Linked DNA regions of Homo sapiens. The protein of the gene in region 2 interacts with the protein of the main gene of each other region in a pairwise test. Each region holds a gene or a part of one and is shown on either strand. Other genes may lie near its edges. The genes, in order: GPN2, RPAP1 and GPN1.

Region 1 (3,750 bases), on a different chromosome or scaffold from region 2:
GTGGATCACCTGAGGTCAAGAGTTCCAGACCAGCCTGGCCAACATGGTGAAACCCCGTCTCTACTAAAAATATAAAAACTAACTGGGCACAGTGGCGCACACTAATACCAGCTACTTGGGAGGCTGAGGCAGGAGAATTGCTTGAATATGGGAGGCAGAGGTTACACAGAGCCAAGATTGCGCCATTGTGCGATCCAGCCTGGGCAACAAGAGCGAAACTCCCTTTCAAAAAAAAAAAAGAAAAAAGAAATTGGGTGGATCACAAGGTCAGGAGATCAAGACCATCCTGGCCAACACAGTGAAACCCCGTCTCTACTAAAAATACAAAAAATTAGCTGGGCGTGGTGGTGGGTGGCTGTAGTCCCAGCTACTCAGGAGGCTGGGGCAGGAGAGTGGCGTGAACCCGGGAGGCAGAGCTTGCAGTGAGCTGAGATCGTGCCACTGCACTCCAGCCTGGGCGACAGAGCAAGACTCCATCTCAAAAAAAAAAAAAAAAAAAGAAATTGGTCATCCACAAGGTTGATGACTGCACCTCCTGTGGCCATTCTTGAGTCCCATGTCTCACCCTCTCTGCTATGGCCAGGAAGCTGGCAAGGATACGAAGAGAAATGGAAGTCGGCTCCCATTGCGGCAGACATCATGGCTTCCAAGCTTCGCTGCTCTTGGGCTCTGAAACAGTATCCATTGGCTTTATCCACAGCCTGCAGGACTCGCTGGATGCTCTCCTTGTCCTGAGCAGGGAGGAGAGAAACAGTTCTGTGAGTGAAACAGAAGTATGTAAAACTGCTTGCAATCTCTAAATACACCTTCCTCCATCTTGCCTCTGTACCTGTAGCTTTCTTGGCCTGGAGTAGTTCTACATGTCCCCAAAGGCTGGATAAATCTCATGTTTCCTGACCACCAACTCACTCAGATTAGAACAGATAAGCTCCCCTATGCATATCCACAGTCCCCTGGGTTTACACCTATTGTACATGGTATCCCTGCCATGTAATAAACGCCTATTAACTCACCTGCCTCCCCTACTCAACTAAACACCCCTTAGGGCCAGGTCATCTGTCGCAGTATTCCCAGTGCCTGGCACAGTACTTCTCTTAAGTAGACATCCAATGAATATGCATGTTTTAAATCTATAACTGGGCCAGGCACGGTGGTTCACACCTGTAAAGCCCAGCACTTTGGGAGGCCAAGGCAGGTAGATCACTTAAGGTCAGGAGTTCAAGAGCAGCCTGGCCAACATGGTGAAACCCTGTCTCTACTGAAAATACAAAAATTAGTTGGGCATGGTGATGGATGCCTGTAATCCCAGTTACTTGGGAAGCTGAGGCAGGAGAATCGGTTGAACCCAGGAGGCAGAGGTTGCAGTGAGCCAAGATAACGCACTGCACTCCAGCCTGGGTGACAGAGTGAGACTCCGTCACAAAAAACAAAACAAAACAAAAAAAAACTATAACTGTTTCCTCATCCACATACAGTGATAAGAACAGTCCATATATCACATGGTGGGAAGGACAAAGCAAAATTATGTATGTGTAGTCCTTAGCACAGTGCCCAGCACAGAAAGCCATAAATAAGAGGTAATTGTTGTGATTGATATTATAGAGTTCATCTCCTCATATCAGAAGAGTGTGGCATTAGAAGGGAGGAGACAAGTTAGCTCAAGTCCACCCACTGCAGAAAGGAATCTAACATGCACCTGCGTCTCCCAGGTTATCTCTGCAGGGTAAAGGTGAGAGGCACAGGGGTTGGGTACCACTTTGCAAAGTCAACAGACAGTTGCCCAGTTGAAAGGGCTTAAGAGACTTGTCCCTGGTCCTGGTGAACTTTCTTGCTGATGACTTTCTGAACTCACCCATTTTCACAGAGGACAGAACATGTGAAGAGAGGATCCAGCAACACAAAATAGACAGGGCAAAAGTTTGGTCCACTCTCTTTACTGGAATTCTGCCCCTACAGCAGCCCCTGGTCCTGAAACTAAGGTTACTCTCAGTGATACTCAACCCAGGGCAAAGACCACTCTTTTTTTTTTTTTTTTTTTGAGATGGAGTCTCACTCTGTCGCCCAGGCTGGAGAGCAATGGCGTGGTCTCGGCTCACTGCAAGCTCTGCCTCACGGGTTCACGCCATTCTCCTGCCTCAGCCTCCTGAGTAGCTGGGACTACAGGCACCTGCTACCACGCCCAGCTAATTTTTTGTATTTTTAGTAGAGACGGGGTTTCACTGGGTTAGCCAGGATGGTCTCGATCTCCTGACCTCATGATCTGCCCACCTCGGCCTCCCAAAGTGCTAGGATTAGAGGCTTGAGCAACCGCGCCCAGCCGGCAAAGACCATTCTTTAAGCCCTCAAAGCTTCCTGTGCTTTTGGCTTGGTGAATCCCATGCACTGTCAAGAGTCCCGTCTTAGCCCCTAGTACCTGGATGTTGAGAGGGATAAAGGAGACAAGGCTATAGTCTTCGATGAGCTGCACTAGCTTCTCATTGAGCTGGCGGTAGTGGCGGAAGAAAGGGTCAGAAGCCAGGTGGTCAAGCAGGTAGGAGAGGTCCAGAACCTCTGTGTAGTAGTCCAGGTTGAAGGCTAAAGAGAGAAACCAGTGTTCAGGAGCAACCAGTATCAGGCTAAAGACCTGAGGACGAGGTTCCTTTTTCCTTTTTTCCTTTGTGCACTCATGCACTCAAATATTTCTTGACACAGTAAAATGAAGTTACTAAGAAAAAAAGCATTTGGTTTTACCTGCTGGCTCTGCTATTTACTAGCTATATAGGCAGGTATCTACTTCATAGGACTGTTATGAAGATTAAATGCTATAAACCCCAGTGTCTGGTACAGAGAAGTGCTTGATCAATAACTGCAAACAGGCTGGGCACGGTGGCTCATGCCTGTAATCCCAGCACTTTGGGAAGCCGAGGTGGGTGATTACCTGAGGTCAGGAGTTCAAGACCAGCCAACATGGTGAAACTCCATTTCTCCTAAAAATACAAAATTAGGCCAGGTGCGGTGGCTCAAGCCTGTAATCCCAGCACTTTGGGAGATGGACGGATCACAAGGTCAGGAGATCGAGACCATCCTGGCTAACACGATGAAACCCTGTTTCTACTAAAAATACAAAAAATTAGCTGGGCGTGGTGGCGGGTGCCTGTAGTCCCAGCTACTCAGGAGGCTGAGGCAGGAGAATGGCGTGAACCCAGGAGGGGGAGCTTGCAGTGAGCCGAGATCGCGCCACTGCACTCCAGCCTGGGCGACACAGCAAGACTCCGTCTCAAAAAAAAAGAAAAAAAAATACAAAATTAGCCGGACGTGGTGGCACATGCCTGTAATCCCAGCTACACGGGAGGCTGAGGCAGGAGAATCGCTTGAATCCAGGAGGCGGAGGATGCAGTGAGCCGAGATTACACCATTGCACTCCAGCTTGGGCAACAAGAGCGAAACTCTGTCTCAAAAAAAAAAAAAAAAAAAAAAGTTGCAAATAATGATAACAAGTATGTACCAAGAACTGTGCATGGTCGTCCTCACCTCACAGAGCTCATAGTCAGGTCATACCCTCAGGACCTGGCACATACACTGCAAAGACTCTGTAAATGGTTAAACTGAATAAATGCTACATTCTAGCAGGGTAGCCTCCTGGGTAAATCACTTTCCTTTTCTGAGCCAGTTATTTCTTAATGTAAAATAAGGACTAGATGATGCTGAGGTCCCTGATTCAGTTTTATAAATCATTTCTCACTAAAAGAAGTAAGTTGGACTTCCCCCTAG
Region 2 (3,750 bases):
TGCCATTTACTAACTGTGTAAGCTTAAGCAAGGTATTTTACTGAAGTTACTGTGCTTGTTTCCTCATCTGTAACATGAAGATAACTGTACCTACCTCCTGAATTAATTATATATATGTAAGAAGATTAGAACAGAGTCTCATACATGAAAGGACACAAACGCCAGTTATGATTCTTATTATTTATATAGCCAAAGGGCAGATAACCATATCTAATTGTTGGGCAGTCTGACCAACAAACAAGGAAAAAGTCTCCTACCCCAATGCCTACCCAAAGGCCCTAAGGAAGGCTGAACTAGATGAACTGAGAATCCATAGTATGGTAACAATTCACTCCTATAAGAGTCTACATAAGCAGAAACAATTCCTACTTATCCATGGATTCATGTGATCCAAAAGCAAAGTCCAGCTCACTTCATAGGGTGCGCCATACCTACATCACAAAGAGAGCCAGGGGGTTATGGGCACCAGTTTTGGAATCAATAGGCCAGAAGTCAAATACCAGTTCCGCTACTTACTAAATGCACTAAATGTGCGAAATTAGGCAAATTATCAATGCTGTCCTTTTTTTTTTTTTTTTTTTTTTTTTGAGACAGATTCTCCCTCTTGTTGCCCAGGCTGGAGTGCAATAGCACGATCTCGGCACACTGCAACCTCCGCCTCCTGGGTTCAAGTGATTCTCCTGCCTCAGGCTCCCGAGTAGCTGGGATTACAGGCGCCTGCCACCACGCCCGGCTAATTTTTTGTATTTTTTTAGTACAGACGGGGTTTCACCATGTTGGCCAGACTGGTCTCGAACTCCTGATCTCAGGTGACCCGCCCGCCTCGGCCTCCCAAAGTGCTGGGATTACAGGCGTGAGCCACCGTGCGCGGCCTCTATGCTGTCTTAAGTCCCATTTCCACAACTGTAAAATGTGAGTAACAGGTCCTATATAATAGGAAATGTGTGAGGATTTAAATGACTATACACGCAAAACGCCTAGCCCAGTGCCTGTTACTTATATAAATAAACCTCAGTAACAATTATTTTAGTCCTAAGTAAAGCCACCAGTGTGTTTCCCCACAAATCCAGCGCAGATTTGTCCAGAACCAATCAGTGCTAGAAGTGATAACATTTTCAGTTATTAATAGAATAAGAATGGGTTGGCCGGGCGCGGTGGCTCACGCCTGTAATCCTAAAGAGTAATGCCTAAAGAGTAACTCGTAAAAAAAAGTAGTCCTAACAATGGACCTCTGGGTTTATGTTGGCCTCTGAGGAGTCTCTGGGGCTCTTACATTGCAGCCTATCCTCCAGAGCCAGGATCCAATCCCGAGTCGGGACGCGTGACTGCCCTTACCGCTCAGGTCAAGGGCTCCAGTTAAGCCTCCTGGACCACCCAACTCTACAATGAGGAATCATCGAGTCGCAGCTTTCGCCGCCCGTTGAAGGGCCGTGCCCGAGATCTATGCACAGAGGAGGCCACAGTTGCTCCCTTACAGACCAAAGGCCCGCAGGCAGGTTCCAGCAAAGAAACTGGACACGCTACCCTGGGTCCTCCTCCCAGATCACCTGAAATCCGTCCCTCCAGCCCCGCCACCTACGTGCTCCAGGCCTGTCTGGGCGCCGCCATCTTGCCCCGCAGAGATCGCGTTTCCGCCGCCGCCAGATTCCAGCTTCCGCCCCGCAGCCCAGCCCCGCCTCTCCCGGTCTTATCTCGGAGCATTCTGGGCTTTGCTTGTTCAGTGCAGCGGACTGGTGAGCGCGGTGCTGCGCGGCTGGCGGTTTATTACCCCCACGTAAGCTCTATACCATCACCCAGAACACACATCCTTTTTTTTTTTTTTTTTTTTTGAGACAGAGTCTTGCTCTGTCGCACAGGCTGGAGTGCTGTGGCGCAATCTCGGCTCACTGCAACCTCCGCCTCCCGGGCTCAAGCGATTCTTGTGCCTCAGCCTCCCGAGTAGCTGGGATTACAGGTGCCCGCCACCACGTCTGGCTAATTTTTGTATTTTTAGTAGAGACGGGGTTTCACCATGTTGGCCAAGCTGGTCTCGAACTCCCGACCTTAGGTAATCCGCCCGCCTCGGCCCCCCAAAGTGCTGTGATTACAGGATGTGCCACCGCGCCTGGCCCACACATGCTTCTGATGTACAGCAGGCACAGCCCCTTCTGCACTTACGACACCCCTGGCAGGGACACAGCGTTCCTCAGACGTCCCTCTGCACTCACCAGCCAGTGTTACCACATCCCACATCCCAGCACCCACGCCCACGGCAGCACACAGAAACGTGGACACACACACACACCCCAACGTGACGAATGTGTTTATGGAAGAGCTAGAAGGTAACCATGAAAAAGGCCCAAGGAAAGAACACTGCCAGTGTGCACTGCAGAAATAGTGGTGGTGAGAAGAGAGGGAATAAAGCTTCCTTGCTAGCAAGGTTATCATCTTCTCCAGAATCTTGCCTTTGTTCATCCCACTCTCCCTTCTTGGAAATCCTCCCTCTTTTCCCTGCCACCCCTGTCTCCAAAGGATAACTCTTTAAGGCCTAGCTGGCGTCAACTCTAAAACCTCTGCCAGCCACGCCTACTCACCAAACTTTCCTTGGATTCACCTGGAATCTCACCGCCTGCACCAGTTGTGTGGTATGCTAAGAACACACTGCCAACTACCAACTGTCACCGGTTACCTTTTCACAGGCTTATGTCCTGTTCCCTTGAATAGACTGTCAGTTCCTTGTGGGCACCAGACCTTGTACTTTGCATCTAAATACTGAGCACCCAACGTGTTGCCATGCACATAGTAGGACCTTAAGTAAATCATTTCTAGACCAAAGGACATCATGGGGCAGCCAATGTTAGTCCAGTGGCTTTCCAACTTTAACAGGCACCAGAATCAACTGGAAGTCTTGTTAAACCAGATTGCTGGGGCCAGGCACAGTGGCACATGCCTATAATCCCAGTACTTTGGGAGGCTGAAGCTGGCAGATCACCTAAGGTCAGGAGTTCGAGACCAGCCTGACCAACATGGTGAAACCCCATCTCTACTAAAAATATAAAAATTAGCAGGGCATGGTGGTGTCCATCTGTAGTCCCAGCTACTCAAGAGGCTGAGCCAGGAGAATCACTTGAACCTGGGAAGCGGAGGTTGCAGTGAGCCAAGATGGAACCACTGCACTCCAGATTGGGCCACAGAGCCAGACTCTGTTTCAAACAAAACGAAACAGATTGCTGGGCCTCAACCTCTGAGTTTCTGATTCAGTAGGTTTTTCTTTTTCTTTCTTTTTTTTTTTTTAAGACGGAGTCTTGCTCTTGTCGCCCAGGCTGGAGTGCAATAGCATGATCTCGGCACACTGCAACCTCCTCCTGGGTTCAAGTGATTCTCCTGCCTCAGCCTCCCGAGTAGCTGGGATTACAGGCGCCCGCCACCATGCCCAGCTAATTTTTGTATTTTTAGTAGAGACGGGGTTTCACCATGTTGGCCAGGCTGGTCTCGAGCTCCTGACCTCAGGTGATCCACCTACGTCAGCTTCCTAAAGTGCTGGGATTACAGGCATGAGCTACTGCACCTGGCCTGTTTCAGTAGGTTTCCTTTTTTTTTGTGACAGAGTCTCGCTCTGTCGCCCAGGCTGGAGTGCACTGGCGCAGTCTCAGCTCACTGCAACCTGCACCTCCCGGGTTCACACCATTCTCCTGCCTCAGCCTCCTGAGTAGCTGGGACTACAGGCACCTGTCACCATGCCGGGCTACTTTTTTGTATTTTTAGTAGAGA
Region 3 (3,750 bases), on a different chromosome or scaffold from region 2:
ATTAATATGGTTGTGTAAAAATCTGTGACTCTTAAATTCCTTAGCTTGATCACATTGGTAAAGAAGAGCAGCAAACCTGAGCATAAATATAGAAAATAAGTAGGCATTTTGTCAGACAGAGAAGTAGACTATGAGAAGGTGATCAGTATGGTCAGACACTTCAAATTTAATATTTGTGACAGCTAATAAAAATCCAAAAGACCTGGGTTATTTTCTTGACCTGTTCTTTGCCTGTGGTATTACCCCGAAGCTGGGATGGGGGTATTTGGGAGTGGGATGGACTAGCAGTCATGGAATGGAAAGATGATGGGGCATTTTACTTGTGATAAATATTTGTCATTCTTTAGGTTTTCTTTGTCACCTACTTCCATAAGAGTGTTTTATAATCACTGGTTTTTATACTCTGATGTTAGGCCATGAGACAGGCTGTTAACATTTTGACAAGAGATAACAACTTGACATTGACAGATCAAAGTCTTCAGCTTCTCAGATCCTTGGATTGTGCCCCAAGATGGTATTGGAGTGCTGCTGATGTGGCTGTGTTGCTTTAGTTCAGCCTGTTTATTCTTTGTTGTCCTAAGATTGCAAATGTTCAGTAGGTGATTGAGGGATTCAGTAGGTGATAGTGCCTGTGAGGTATGCCACCCTGGAGAGGGCTCTGTGATTTTGTGTTGAAATCGGAATTTGTTGTCATTGACATCTTTTTCTTTTAGGTGATGAAATTTATTGAGAAGGCCCAGAACATGTCCAAGTAAGTGATGTCAGTAACACCCATTTATTACTCTGTAGCTGACATATTTCTAGGCTTCATGGAGGATCTGGGATACCATCAGCCTCTGAAAGAATATAGATTGAGATGAAACCATTAGGAGTGAAAAAAAAATTGGCAAATCATTAAGATGCTTTAGAATATAGAGCTAAATTTAATATCATTTCATCCTCAATTACTTTGATCCCCAATTTACATGGCTTCTTAGGAGCTCTTTTGAGACTTTGTCCCAATTCAGTTGTCCACCTGCCTTCTCTTGGGAAACCATGCTTGTTGTCATTAAAGTATCTGAAATACCTTTCTAATTCTTATTTAAATGAATATAGTCTACATGGTTCAGAGAAAATTTTTTAATTTACAGAGTGTCAGAATAGGAAATATTTGTTCTTATGGCCATTACCCAGTTAGCTGTTGTTCAAGGTTTACTTTTTTTAAAAAAGATAATTTATTGTTTTATAAAAATTCAAACCATGCATGATATTTATAAGATGAAACCATCACCCCGATTCCCACTAGAAGTAACATCATCATTCAGCGACTAGCATTCCACATTTCTATATACACAGATAGAAGGATGAATGGATAAAAGTGCTTTTACAAAAATGGGGTACTAGAGGTAGCTTTTGTTTTGTTTTGAGACAGGGTCTTGCTCTGTCGCCCAGGCTGGAGTACAGTGTAGTGATCTCAGCTCACTGTAACTTCCACCTCCCTGGCTCAGGTGATCCTCCCACCTCAGCCTCCCAAGTAGCTGGGACTACAGGTGTGAGCCACCACACCTGGCTAATTTTTGTATTTTTGTATTTTTGGGATGGAGTCTCGCTCTATTGCCTAGGCTGGAGTGCAGTGGTGTGATCTTGGCTCACTGCAATCTTTGCATCCCGGGTTCAAGCGATTCTCCTGCCTCAGCCTCCTGAGTAGCTGGGATTACAGGTGGCCTGCTACCATGCCTGACTAATTTTTGTATTTTTAGTAGAGATGGGGTTTCACCATGTTGGCCAGACTGGTCTCAAACTCCTAACCTCAAGTGATCTGCCCGGCTTAACCTCCCAAAGTGCTGGAACTATAGGTGTGAGCCACTGAGCCTGGCCTGGAGGTATTTTTTTTTTTTTAATGACAGCTTTATTAAGATATAATTCATATACCATAAAGTTCACTCGTTTAAAGTGTATGGTTGTTTTAGTCTGTCCACAGAGTCGTGTGTTGATAATTACTATCTTCAGAATATTTTTGTCATCCTGAAAAGAAACCCCATACTCATTACCAATCACTCCTTATTTTCTGTTCCCTTTAGCCCCTAGTGACTACCCCATTTTCCATTCCCATTGGCAATATGATTTCTCCACAACCAGTTCCTCCATAACCTTGCCAACTTTTGTTATTCTTCTTGTTTTTGATTATAGCCATTCTAGTGGATATAGAGTGGTATCTCATTGTGGTTTTTACTTTTATTTTCTTAATAACTAATGATATTGAACATCTTTTTAATGTACTTATTGGCCATTGGTATGTATATATTTAGAGAAATGTCTATTAGAATTCTTTGCCAATTAAAAAAATTCTGATATAATTCATAATTATATCAAATTAATTCACAAAAAAGTTGATATAGTTCATAAAAACAGCTTTATTGAGATAATTCACATACCATACAATTCACCCATTTAAGGTATACAATTCAGTGGCTTTTAGTATATTCACAGAATTGTACAACTATCACCACAGTCAATTTTAGAATATTTTCATCATCTCAAGAAGTAACCTGATATTCTTCAGCTAGCACTTTCCCATTCCTCCCATTCTTCTTCCTCTGTTCCACACTCACCCCCGCCCTAAGCAACCAGATGTTTCCCAAGAGATTTACATTCTGGTTTTGTGTCTTTCATTTTAAATGCATTGTGTTTCTATAAAAGTTTCCCCTGTGATCATTTGCAGCAACTCATGGTCTGCTGTTCCTGCCCATTGGCGTGAATATTGGTCATTGAACAAAGTCTAGGGGATCATCATGTGCAGTTTAGGGCCAGTAGGAGGAAGTTAGATTTGGCAGTGTGCAGAGGTTACTCCAGTCTTGGATAACCAGATGTTTATTGTCTTATATGATGGAATATCCTTCAGCATAACACAAATGTAACACTTCTTTAATGATCTTTCTTGACATAGATATGTGTTGATTGACACACCTGGACAGATTGAGGTATTCACCTGGTCAGCTTCTGGGACAATTATCACTGAAGCCCTTGTGAGTATTCTAGGACTTGCTACTGAGAGTAGCTAGAGGGGCTAGACTGGATGAGCATTTATTTTTAATTGCCTTGGACTTTATATGGGAGGAAGTTGTAGAAGCTCTGCACACCCTGCCTAAAGTGGTTTTCCCTTGTTAAGGATGGTGGAAAAAGAGTTTGAGGACAGATCGTGAGCCCTCTGACCAAGGCTTTGATTTTTTTGTGGCTTTAGGCATCCTCATTTCCAACAGTTGTCATCTATGTAATGGACACATCGAGAAGTACCAACCCAGTGACCTTCATGTCCAACATGCTCTATGCCTGCAGGTAATTGATTGTTGGTGGGGAAAGTGTTCCATCAAGGTATAAGGCCTTTTTCTCTTCTTCTTCCTCTTTTTTTTTTTTTTTTGAATCTGGTTGCTTACCCCTGGATTTGTGCTCATTCAGATTTGCTGTTCAGTTGAGTGGCTGTGAGCTGGGGAAGGTCAGAGGAGAAAAGAGGCACATGTGCTGTTGGCATTCTCTCTCAATACCCTCTGATCTTCCTCCCTTGTTGTTACAAAAAGGTGATGTATGAATATGAACTGTCTGATAGTTGTTCCCAGTTGGATAAAATCCAAGTTTAAAGATAAAGTCCTCTGGGCTGGGTCTGTCATCCCTACACTTGGGAGGCCAAGGTGGGAGGATCGTTTGAGCTTGGGAGTTTGAAACCAGGCTGGGGAACATAGCAAGACTCTGTCTCTACAAAAAATGTTTTAAAAT

What was found.
Region 1: the proteins of RPAP1 (region 2) and GPN2 interact in a two-hybrid assay, tested with the Homo sapiens proteins (one study listed by BioGRID).
Region 3: the proteins of RPAP1 (region 2) and GPN1 interact in a two-hybrid assay, tested with the Homo sapiens proteins (one study listed by BioGRID).

The regions. Positions count from the first base shown.
Region 1 is NC_000001.11:26,883,560-26,887,309, forward strand, and holds part of GPN2 (GPN-loop GTPase 2), read right to left. Parts: intron 2,575-3,750; coding exon 2,414-2,574; intron 732-2,413; coding exon 601-731; intron 1-600. UniProt on the Homo sapiens protein: Small GTPase required for proper localization of RNA polymerase II and III (RNAPII and RNAPIII). May act at an RNAP assembly step prior to nuclear import.
Region 2 is NC_000015.10:41,542,640-41,546,389, forward strand, and holds the start of RPAP1 (RNA polymerase II-associated protein 1), read right to left. Parts: upstream 1,619-3,750; 5' UTR 1,580-1,618; exon of another isoform or gene 1,274-1,579; intron 1-1,273. UniProt on the Homo sapiens protein: Forms an interface between the RNA polymerase II enzyme and chaperone/scaffolding protein, suggesting that it is required to connect RNA polymerase II to regulators of protein complex formation.
Region 3 is NC_000002.12:27,631,920-27,635,669, forward strand, and holds part of GPN1 (GPN-loop GTPase 1), read left to right. Parts: intron 1-713; coding exon 714-751; intron 752-2,926; coding exon 2,927-3,005; intron 3,006-3,220; coding exon 3,221-3,315; intron 3,316-3,750. UniProt on the Homo sapiens protein: Small GTPase required for proper nuclear import of RNA polymerase II (RNAPII). May act at an RNAP assembly step prior to nuclear import.